Linked DNA regions of Homo sapiens. The protein of the gene in region 1 interacts with the protein of each later gene in a biochemical or structural test. Each region holds a gene or a part of one and is shown on either strand. Other genes may lie near its edges.

Region 1 (5,430 bases):
TGGAGTGCAGTGGCGCGATCTCGGCTCACTGCAAGCTCCACCTCCCGGGTTCACGCCATTCTGCCTCAGCCTCCGGAGTAGCTGGGACTACAGGCACGTGCCACCATGCCCGGCTAATTTTTTGTATTTTTAGTAGAGACAGGGTTTCACTGTGTTAGCCAGGATGGTCTCGATCTCCTGACCTTGTGATCTGCCCACCTTAGCCTCCCAAAGTGCTGGGATTACAGGTGTGAGCCACCGCACCCGGCCCTTTTCTGTATCTTTTTTATATGTTTGTTGACAATGCTTATTTATTTATTTTATTTATTTTAAGACAGAGTCTCACTCTGTTGGCCAGGCTGGAGTGCAGTGGCATGATCTTGGCTCACTGCAACCTCCGCTTCCCAGACTCAAGGGATTCTCCAGCCTCAGCCTCCTGAGTAGCTGGGACTATAGGTGTGAGCCGCCATACCCGGCTAATTTTTTAAAAAATTTTTTGTAGAAATGGGGTTTCACTACATTGCCTGGCTGGTCTTGAACTCCTGAGCTTAAAGTGATCCTCCCACCTTGGCCTCCCAAAGTATTGGGATTACAGACCTGAGCCACTGCACCTGGCTGAAAATACTTTGAAAAAAAAAAAAAGACTTGCCTTTTCTCATTGAATCATTTTGACTCCTTGTTGAGAATTAATTAACCATATGTATGGGTTTATTTCTGTACTCTCTTCTCTGTTCCATTGATATGTATAGTTTTCTTTATGCCAATACCAAACTGTCTCTTTTTTTAACCATATTATTTATTTATGTATATATGTATTTATTTATTTATTTATTTATTTATTTGAGATGGGGGTCTCACTCTGTTGCTCAGGTTGGAGTACAGTGGCATGATCTCAGCTCACTGCAACCTCTGCCTCCTGGGCTCAAGTGATCCTCCCGCCTCAGCCCCCCAAGTAGCTAGTGGGAGCCATCATGCCCGGCTAATTTTTAAATATTTTTTGTAGAAATAGGGTTTCACTGTGTTGCCCAGGCTGGTCTTGAACTCCTGAGGTCAGGTGATCCACCTGCTGCGGCCTCCCAAAGTGCTAGGATTACACATGTGAGCTGCTGTGTGTACCTGGCCTACTCTTTTTTTTTTGAAACGAGGTCTCACTTTGTCACCCAGGCTGGAGTGCAGTGGCACGATCTCAGCTCACTGCAGCCTTGTCCTCCCGGGTTCAAGTGATCCTCCTTCCACAGCCCCTCAAGTAGCTGGGACTACAGGCTTGCACCACCATGCCCAACTTTGCACTAGTCAGTGTGACAAGGTGAGAAAAAGAAAAAAGAAAACTATCTTTTTTCACAGATGGCATGATTGTCTATGCAGAAAATCCCAAGAGATCTAGACAAACTACAAGGTTTAGTAAGTGAAGGTCACAAGATGAGAAGTCAATATACAAAATAAACTGTATATTACACATCACTTCTGTGGTATTCTGGCCAAAGTGTGCAACCTAAATTAATCACAAGGAAACATCAGATACTTTGTACAATAAGTGATATCTGACAAAAATCACTGACCTCTACTCTTCAAAAACATCAAAGGCACAAACCCAAAGTCACAGGAGCCTTCCTTCCTTCCATTCTCCCTCCCCTCCTTCCCTCCCTCCTTCCTTTTTTTTTTTTTTTTTTTTTTTTTTTGAGATGGAATTTTGCTCCTGTTGCCCAGGCTGGAGTGCAGTGGTGCAATCTCGGTTCACTGCAACCTCCGCCTCCCAGGTACAAACGATTCTCCATCTTAGCCTCCCAAGTAGCTCGGATTACAGGCCTGTGCCACCATGCATGGCTATTTTTTTTGTATTTAGTAGGACAGGGTTTTCCCATGTTAGTCACCAGATGATAAATGCAGCTTCCCTGTCAGCTCCAAATCAGGCCTTTTATAAACAAGTATAGTCAAGGTCAGGAAGAAAACTTCCCTTCTGTATAATTGTCTTTCTTGTTTCCTTTGCATAATCAGCTGTGCACAAAGAGAGCTATAGTTATGTTCTGTTTTTCTCAGCAAAAGGCTTTATTGTCCAATTTTATAATTTCACAGCATGTCAGTTAGAAAAGAGACTAAGTCAGTAACAAAATATACCCAACCAAAAGTGGCTGCATTCATCTTTTTTTTTTTTTTTTTTTTTTTTGAGACGGAGTCTCGCTCTATTGCCAGGCTGGAGTGCAGTGGCGCAATCTTGGCTCACTGCAACCTCCGCCTCCTGGGTTCAAGTGATTCTCCTGCCTCAGCCTCCCGAGTAGCTGGGACTACAGGCACGCGCCACCATGCCCAGCTAATTTTTTTGTATTTTTAGTAGAGATGGGGTTTCACTATGTTGGCCAGGATGGTCTCGATCTCCTGACCTCGTGATTTGCCTGCTTTGGCCTCCCAAAGTGCTGGGATTACAGGTGTGAGCCACTGTGCCCAGTCTTTTTGTTTCGTTTTTTGTTTTTTGGCAGAGTCTTGCTCCGTCACCCAGGCTGGAATGCAGTGGCACAATCTCGGCTCACCATCACCTCCAACTCCTGGGTTCAAGCGATTCTTGTGCCTCAGCCTCTCGAGTAGCTGGGATTATAGGTGCCTACCACCATGTCCAGCTAATTTTTGTATTTTTAGTAAAGACGGTGTTTCACCATGTTGGCTAGGCTGGTCTTGAACTCCTGGCCTCTTGTCCACCAGGCTTAAGTGCAATGGTGCGATCTCAGCTCACTGCAACCTCCGCCTCCTGGGTTCAAGCAATTCTCGTGCCTCAGCCTCCCGAGTAGCTGGGACAACAGGCGTCTGCCACCATGCCTGGCTTAAATTTTGTATTTTTAGTAGAGATGGGGTTTTACCATGTTGGCCAGGCTGGTATTGAACTCCTAACCTCAAATGATCCGCCTGCCTTGGCCTCCCAAAGTGCTGGGATTACAGGCGTGAGCCACCGCGCCTGGCCTCAGCTTGGGTTTTTCAATGCAGATTGCTAACATGAATTGCTACTCTCAATTCCTTGAGAGAACAGACTTGTGAGGAGTTCTCCCGAGAAGAATTTTCACCTCTTCTTTGGTGTCCCCCCAAGCTAAGGCCAAGACAGACAGGCCTCCCAGGGACTCTTTCCACAGGCTTATTTCCCCTTCATGTAACTAGTGTGGGCGTTGCCTTTGGGGAGTCCTCAGTTCTATGCAGTGTGGTGAGGATCTCTGAGATGCCACTCTCCCTTGCTTGGAGCCTAGGTTTTCTCTCTTGTTCTCTTTCACCACCACGTGCATAACCCTTAAAGATCAAGTTCTAGCTGGGTGTGGTGGCTTACACTTGTACTTCTATAGCTTTGGGAGGCTGAGGTGAGAGGATCATTTGAGGCCAGGAGTTCAGGACCAGCCTGGGCAACATAGCAAGACCATGCCTCTACAAAAAATAAAAAATTAGCCAGGTGTGGTGTCGTGCATCTCTAGACCCAGCTACTCAGAGGCCAAGGTGGGAGAATCACTTGAGACCCAGAGGTCGAGGCTGCAGTGAGCTATGATCGCACCACTGTGCTCCAGCCTGGGTGACAGAGAAAGACCCTGTCTCTTAAAAAAATAATAATAATAAATAAAATCAAGTTATTTGCTATCTGGGATCAGCACCATGACAAACTACCAACATGAGTGCTGCCGGGTCAGTCAGGGTCCTTGCCCGGAGATTAAAACCACACCAGTTATTTTAACAGATAATTTGATAGAAAGAACCAGTAACTAGGTGTTACTAGAAGACTAAGATATGAGGGAGAAGCAACCGCAGGGAGTAGCTACCACTCCCAGGGTTGGGGGAACAAAAGAAAGGAGCAGGAATTATTGAAACGTAGATGTTTGGAAACTGGGAGGTGGGGCTCCAGGAGCTGAAATTCAGATCGTTTGAGGAGGGCTTCCTCCCCCACCGGCTGCTGAGAGGGGCTGAATGAGGCTGTTTCTGGAGGTATTGGGACACTGCAAACTGGATTCATCTGCTGCTGCAGGCAGGAACCACTGCAGCAGCAGAAGCTTAACTGGGGGTGATGCTCACAGGATCTGCAATGCACGAGAAGCTGGTCCTTCCTCCCTCCTGCAGCCTTGCAAACTCTCTCTCTTGCCCCCCCTATTGGCAGAGCCTGGTCACGATCAGCTAGGGAAGCAGAAAGGTGGTTTGCCAAGTGCGGGCCCAGATCACAGAGATGAGTTGTAGAGGGTAGGTTTGAGCTGAGAAACAATCACTTAATACTTAGTGCAGCTCGCCTGACTCTCTGGATTCTGTTTTCTCATTTCCAGCCTCTAGTAATTCCCCTTGCCTTTCCGCTGACTCACCTGTGCATTTCCAAAAGGTGTTTGAATATTGTGCCAGTTTACTGAATATTCTCTGCCGGGAAAGTTCCTTAGGACATGTAGCCCGCTGTATTGCCAGATATGGAAGACTCCATGGGAGAATTTAGATAAGGGTCGCTCACATCTGGAGGATAAAGAGATCCCTCTGGGGCCTGTGTCAGGGCAGGACTGACTCAAGGCCTAGAAACAAAGGGTCTGGAGACATCTAGGCCCAAGCTACATTCTAGTGACTCCCAGTCCCCTGTGTGGGCCCTGTGCCCTCTTCCCCAGCCCCTAGAAGCTCTCATCTAAGCCAACCTGCCCTGGTTCTCATGCACTGTGGCTTCTCCCACCCAGGTCCTTCTGGTCACCTCATCTTTCATGTCCCCTTCCGAGAGCCGCAGTGGCTCAAACCCCAACCGCGTTCGCATGTTTGGGCCTGACAAGCTGGTCCGGGCAGCCGCCGAGAAGCGCTGGGACCGGGTCAAAATTGTTTGCAGCCAGCCCTACAGCAAGGTACCTAGGGTGGGAGCCAGGGTGCAGAGTCCTTGGTCCTGGGCAAGGAGGGAAATAAGGGCCAATATTGAGTCCCATAGGGCTGGGAGGAGTAGACAGCTGGTGTCCCATGGGATTATGGGGAGGCTGGGTCCCTGCGTTCCCTGAAATGGGTTTGGGATCTTTCCTGTAATGAGAAGTTTCATCTCCCGGAGGAATCTAGGAAGGGTGAACTGCAGCATCTCAGAGGGGAATCGGAGGAGGGGAACTGACTTGTTAGAGAGGTGGCCTAGTAGAGTGGGCCTAGTAGTTAACATCAGGAGATCTGGCGTCTGATTACTGAGTTCACGTCCTGGCTATACCACTTTTTAGCTGTGTGATCTTGGGCAAGTGACTTACGCTCTCTGGGCCTCCATTGCCTGATCCTTACAGGGTTGCTGTAGGTTAAGGGATGCTAAAAGCTGTGGTAACAGTGAGACTGGAGTATGTGATGATGCCACACACTAAAGGTGTGCTTCTTGCCCAGGTAACTGTCCTGGGGAGTGTTTAGCCTGTCAGCTGGCTTCTCCTTATGAGGTCGTGCAGGGACCCAGACTTCTCCTATTTTCTGGCTCTGCATCCAGCTGGCAGAGGAGAGAGCCTGGAA
Region 2 (4,464 bases), on another chromosome or scaffold:
GTTTGTTTGTTTTGAAACAGGGTCTCATTCTGTCACCCAGGCTGGAGTGAGGTGGTGCAATTATGGCTCACTGCAGCCTGGACCTCCCAGGCTCAGTTAATCCTCCTGCCTCAGCCTCCTGAGTAGCTGGGACTACAGGTGTGCCCATCATGCCCGGCTAAGATTATTCTTTTCAGCTAATGATTCCTGTGTAGAAATACAAGAATGAATTCTAATTTATTATTATTTTTTAACCTGTTATGGAGGACATTACCAGTCATTCATTCACCTTTTACTGTCAAAGTGGTTAACAGGCTTATAAAACTAGAGAAGGGAAGGGTAAGGTTTCATTTTTTTAAAAAAATCATACTTTGTTGAGATTTTATTTTATTTGAACTTCAAGTTTACTACCTAATAATTCCCTTTAATAAATTCATTTTCAGCTGTAATTTTTATGTGAACTGGAAGTGTTCAGAAAACACTAAAATTCTATTTCAGAGAACTAAGTGAAGATAAAATGTATTAACTTGGAATTCACGGGTCTTTTTTCCAAGTCCAGTAATCCCTTCATTATATAGAGGAGAAAACTAAAGTCTAGAGTAATGTGGTTTTCTTCACATTAACTAGAGCTAGTTCTAGGTGAAGCCTGGTCTTCAGTCCAGATCTTTTGATAACCTCTTTGATTCCCTCCCAACTTTTCTCTGTTCCTTCCCTCTACCACACACACAGTCTCTGAACTGAAAGGTTTTTATTTTTATGTGTGTGTTTCTTTAAATTTCTTGAGTAGGCAGATTAAAAAATGTTAAAAGTAGAGGGAAATGCTGAGAAGGTTGTGCAGTATTAGGGTTTTAGACTGTTTATGAACAAAAAAGCAGTATTATGTATTTATAATCCTGCTTTTCCAGACCTTCCAGGACAGTGATGATGTTTTTGCATTTTCAGTCCAGTAAATAGAAGACTAGACATACCTGGACCCCTGAAGAAACGCTTATTTAGCATTAATTGATTCTCTATTAAGTTATGGTTCTGAGAAAGCCAAGATGCCCTAAAGTGAGCAGGTTTAATATGAAAGCTATGGTGGAATACTTGTATTTCAGTCATGAGTTTTTGTTGTGGGTTTTGTTTATTGGTTTTTCTTATAGTTTGTTAAGGCCAATGAGTCTATTTAGAAAATTACAATTCTGTTATTTGATTAACTTGACCCCAGTTGACTAGTGATGGAACCTCCTGTGATAAAGGAGGTGGAGGAAGATGAATATTAGGCCCTGGGAAACCAAGGGCCTAGTAGTTTTTTGTTGTTGTTTGTTTATTTGTTTTGAGACAGAGTTTCACTCTTGTCACCCACTGCAATGGTGCAGTCTCAGCTCACTGCAACCTCTGCCTCCTGGGTTCAAGCGATTCTCCTGTCTCAGCCTCCCAAGTAGCTGGGATTACAGGTGCCTGCCACCATGCCCGGCTAATTTTTGTATTCTTAGTAGAGACAAGGTTTCACAACGTTGGCCAGGCTGGTCTTGAACTCCTGACCTCAGGTGATCTGCCTGCCTTGGCCTCCCAAAGTGCTGGATTACAGGCATGAGCCACCGCGCCTGACTCCCCAATAGTCAATATACTCAAAATGATTAGTATAAAATGCAGCTTTGGAGTTTATGAGATAAAGTCAAAACGCATACTAGATTTCAAGCTCTAGCAAAGTTTTGAGCCAATGTAAACTGATAAAACAAACTAATCTTTAATATTCTAGTCATCCTTATGGGAAAGGATAATAGGGAAGGGGACCAAAAACATGATTTCAAGATATTCTGTGGCCTGACTTTTGGATTAAAGAAAAAAGCTAAAGGAAGGCTTATTAGGAATGCTGAATGGAATGAGTGATTAACTGAATATAATAGTGTAGTAATAATAACAGCTGACATTTACTCAGCACCTACTGTGAGCCAGGCACTGCCTCTTGGCTGCTTTTTCATTTATTATTTAATCTTCACTAAAAGTTTCCTCTCCCTTTTTAAAATTAGCTTTCTAAGGTTGAAAAAAGAATCTTTCACTAAAAATCATAGGATTGGTTTAAACAGGTGAACTTTCTGGTATGTAAGTTATGTCACCAAAGTTGTTTTAGAAAAGTACATACAAAATATCACAGATAAATCAGTAGTCTGTATTGTTAGTGGCATATGTATATGAAAGGTATAAAGCCATGCATAGAAATAACATCAACTGAGGAGTGTGGTGTTTTTGTTTTTTGTTTTCTAGAGAGTGATAGGAGGGGAAGATAAGGGGCATAACATAAGTGGTGGATACATGGGTATTTGGTACTTTTTTTTTTTATATGTCAGATATTTCTCAAATTATTTTTAAAAAGAATAATAGAATGTTACATAATATTTGAGAGCTTTACTATGTAGCAGGTGCCTTTTCTAAGGGCTTTTTACATCTTCACAAACCCTGTAAGGCAGATTCTGTTATCACTGACCTGCAGATGAAATTAAAGCACAGAGATACTAACTGGCACATAGTCACGCTGGTAGTGTGGAACCAGGATTCAGTCTTAGGAAATCTGACTTCAGAGCTTATGCTTTAAGCACTATATTACTATGCTACAGTGCCCCTTTATAAAATAAAACAAAAGTAATGGGTCACTTAAGTATTTTCACCAAAATAAGTTTCAAGGTCTTTATTTGCATTTTTGTTGAGACTATTTAGTCATTCCTCTATTATCAGGTTACTGATATATTTCTTTCCCTTTTACAGATAATGGCATCAGCTGCTAAGGAATTTAAAATGGACAACTTTTCACCTAAAGCTGGCACTAGCAAATTGCAACAGACAGTACCAGCTGATGCATCTCCTGATTCTAAGTGTCCTATATGCTTGGATAGATTTGATAATGTGTCTTACTTAGATCGCTGCTTACATAAGTTCTGTTTTCGCTGTGTACAGGAGTGGTCAAAAAACAAAGCTGAATGCCCACTATGTAAACAGCCCTTTGATTCTATTTTCCATTCTGTGAGGGCAGAAGATGACTTCAAGGAGTATGTCCTAAGGCCTTCGTATAATGGTTCTTTTGTCACCCCTGATCGACGATTTCGCTACCGTACAACTCTGACAAGGGAACGAAATGCTTCTGTGTATTCACCTAGTGGTCCTGTGAACAGAAGAACAACAACTCCACCGGATAGTGGAGTACTGTTTGAAGGGTTAGGCATTTCAACAAGACCTAGAGATGTTGAAATTCCTCAGTTTATGAGACAGATTGCAGTAAGGAGGCCAACTACGGCAGATGAAAGATCTTTGCGGAAAATTCAAGAACAAGATATTATTAATTTTAGACGAACTCTTTATCGTGCTGGTGCTCGAGTTAGAAATATTGAAGATGGTGGCCGCTACAGGGATATTTCAGCTGAATTTTTCCGTAGAAATCCAGCTTGCCTTCACAGATTAGTCCCCTGGTTAAAACGTGAACTTACAGTTCTTTTTGGAGCTCATGGATCTTTAGTGAATATTGTCCAGCATATTATCATGAGTAATGTTACTCGCTATGACTTGGAGAGTCAGGCATTTGTGTCTGATTTAAGACCATTTTTACTTAATCGAACTGAGCATTTTATACATGAATTTATCAGTTTTGCCCGATCTCCTTTTAACATGGCAGCCTTTGACCAGCATGCCAATTATGATTGCCCTGCTCCTTCATACGAAGAAGGCAGCCATTCTGATTCTTCAGTCATAACAATATCTCCAGATGAGGCTGAGACCCAAGAGCTGGATATTAATGTAGCCACTGTTAGTCAGGCACCATGGGATGATGAAACTCCAGGACCATCTTACTCAAGCTCAGAGCAGGTACACGTTACTATGTCTTCTCTTTTAAATACTTCTGACAGTTCAGATGAAGAACTTGTCACAGGAGGAGCCACGTCTCAGATACAAGGAGTACAAACCAATGACGACCTAAATAATGACAGTGATGATTCTTCAGATAATTGTGTCATTGTTGGGTTTGTTAAACCACTAGCTGAGAGGACCCCAGAACTTGTTGAACTGTCCTCTGATTCTGAGGACTTAGGTTCTTATGAGAAAATGGAGACAGTGAAGACACAAGAACAGGAGCAATCTTACAGTTCTGGTGATAGCGATGTTAGTAGATGCTCATCTCCACACTCTGTCCTTGGAAAGGATGAACAAATAAATAAAGGTCATTGTGATTCTAGTACAAGAATCAAATCAAAGAAGGAAGAGAAACGATCTACATCATTGTCATCTCCCAGAAACCTGAACTCATCTGTAAGAGGAGACAGAGTATATTCTCCATATAACCATAGACACAGAAAGAGGGGAAGATCAAGAAGTTCAGATTCACGTTCTCAGAGTAGAAGTGGGCATGATCAGAAGAATCATAGAAAGCATCATGGGAAGAAAAGAATGAAAAGTAAACGATCCAGAAGCAGGGAAAGTAGCAGACCTAGAGGGAGAAGAGACAAAAAGAGATCA

The links. The genes of interacting proteins can lie anywhere in the genome.
Region 2: the proteins of XRCC1 (region 1) and TOPORS interact in far-western blotting, tested with the Homo sapiens proteins (one study listed by BioGRID).

Annotation. Positions count from the first base shown.
Region 1 is NC_000019.10:43,554,021-43,559,450, reverse strand, and holds part of XRCC1 (DNA repair protein XRCC1), read left to right. Parts: intron 1-4,646; coding exon 4,647-4,805; intron 4,806-5,430. UniProt on the Homo sapiens protein: Scaffold protein involved in DNA single-strand break repair by mediating the assembly of DNA break repair protein complexes. Negatively regulates ADP-ribosyltransferase activity of PARP1 during base-excision repair in order to prevent excessive PARP1 activity.
Region 2 is NC_000009.12:32,542,587-32,547,050, reverse strand, and holds part of TOPORS (E3 ubiquitin-protein ligase Topors), read left to right. Parts: intron 1-2,724; coding exon 2,725-4,464. UniProt on the Homo sapiens protein: Functions as an E3 ubiquitin-protein ligase and as an E3 SUMO1-protein ligase. Probable tumor suppressor involved in cell growth, cell proliferation and apoptosis that regulates p53/TP53 stability through ubiquitin-dependent degradation.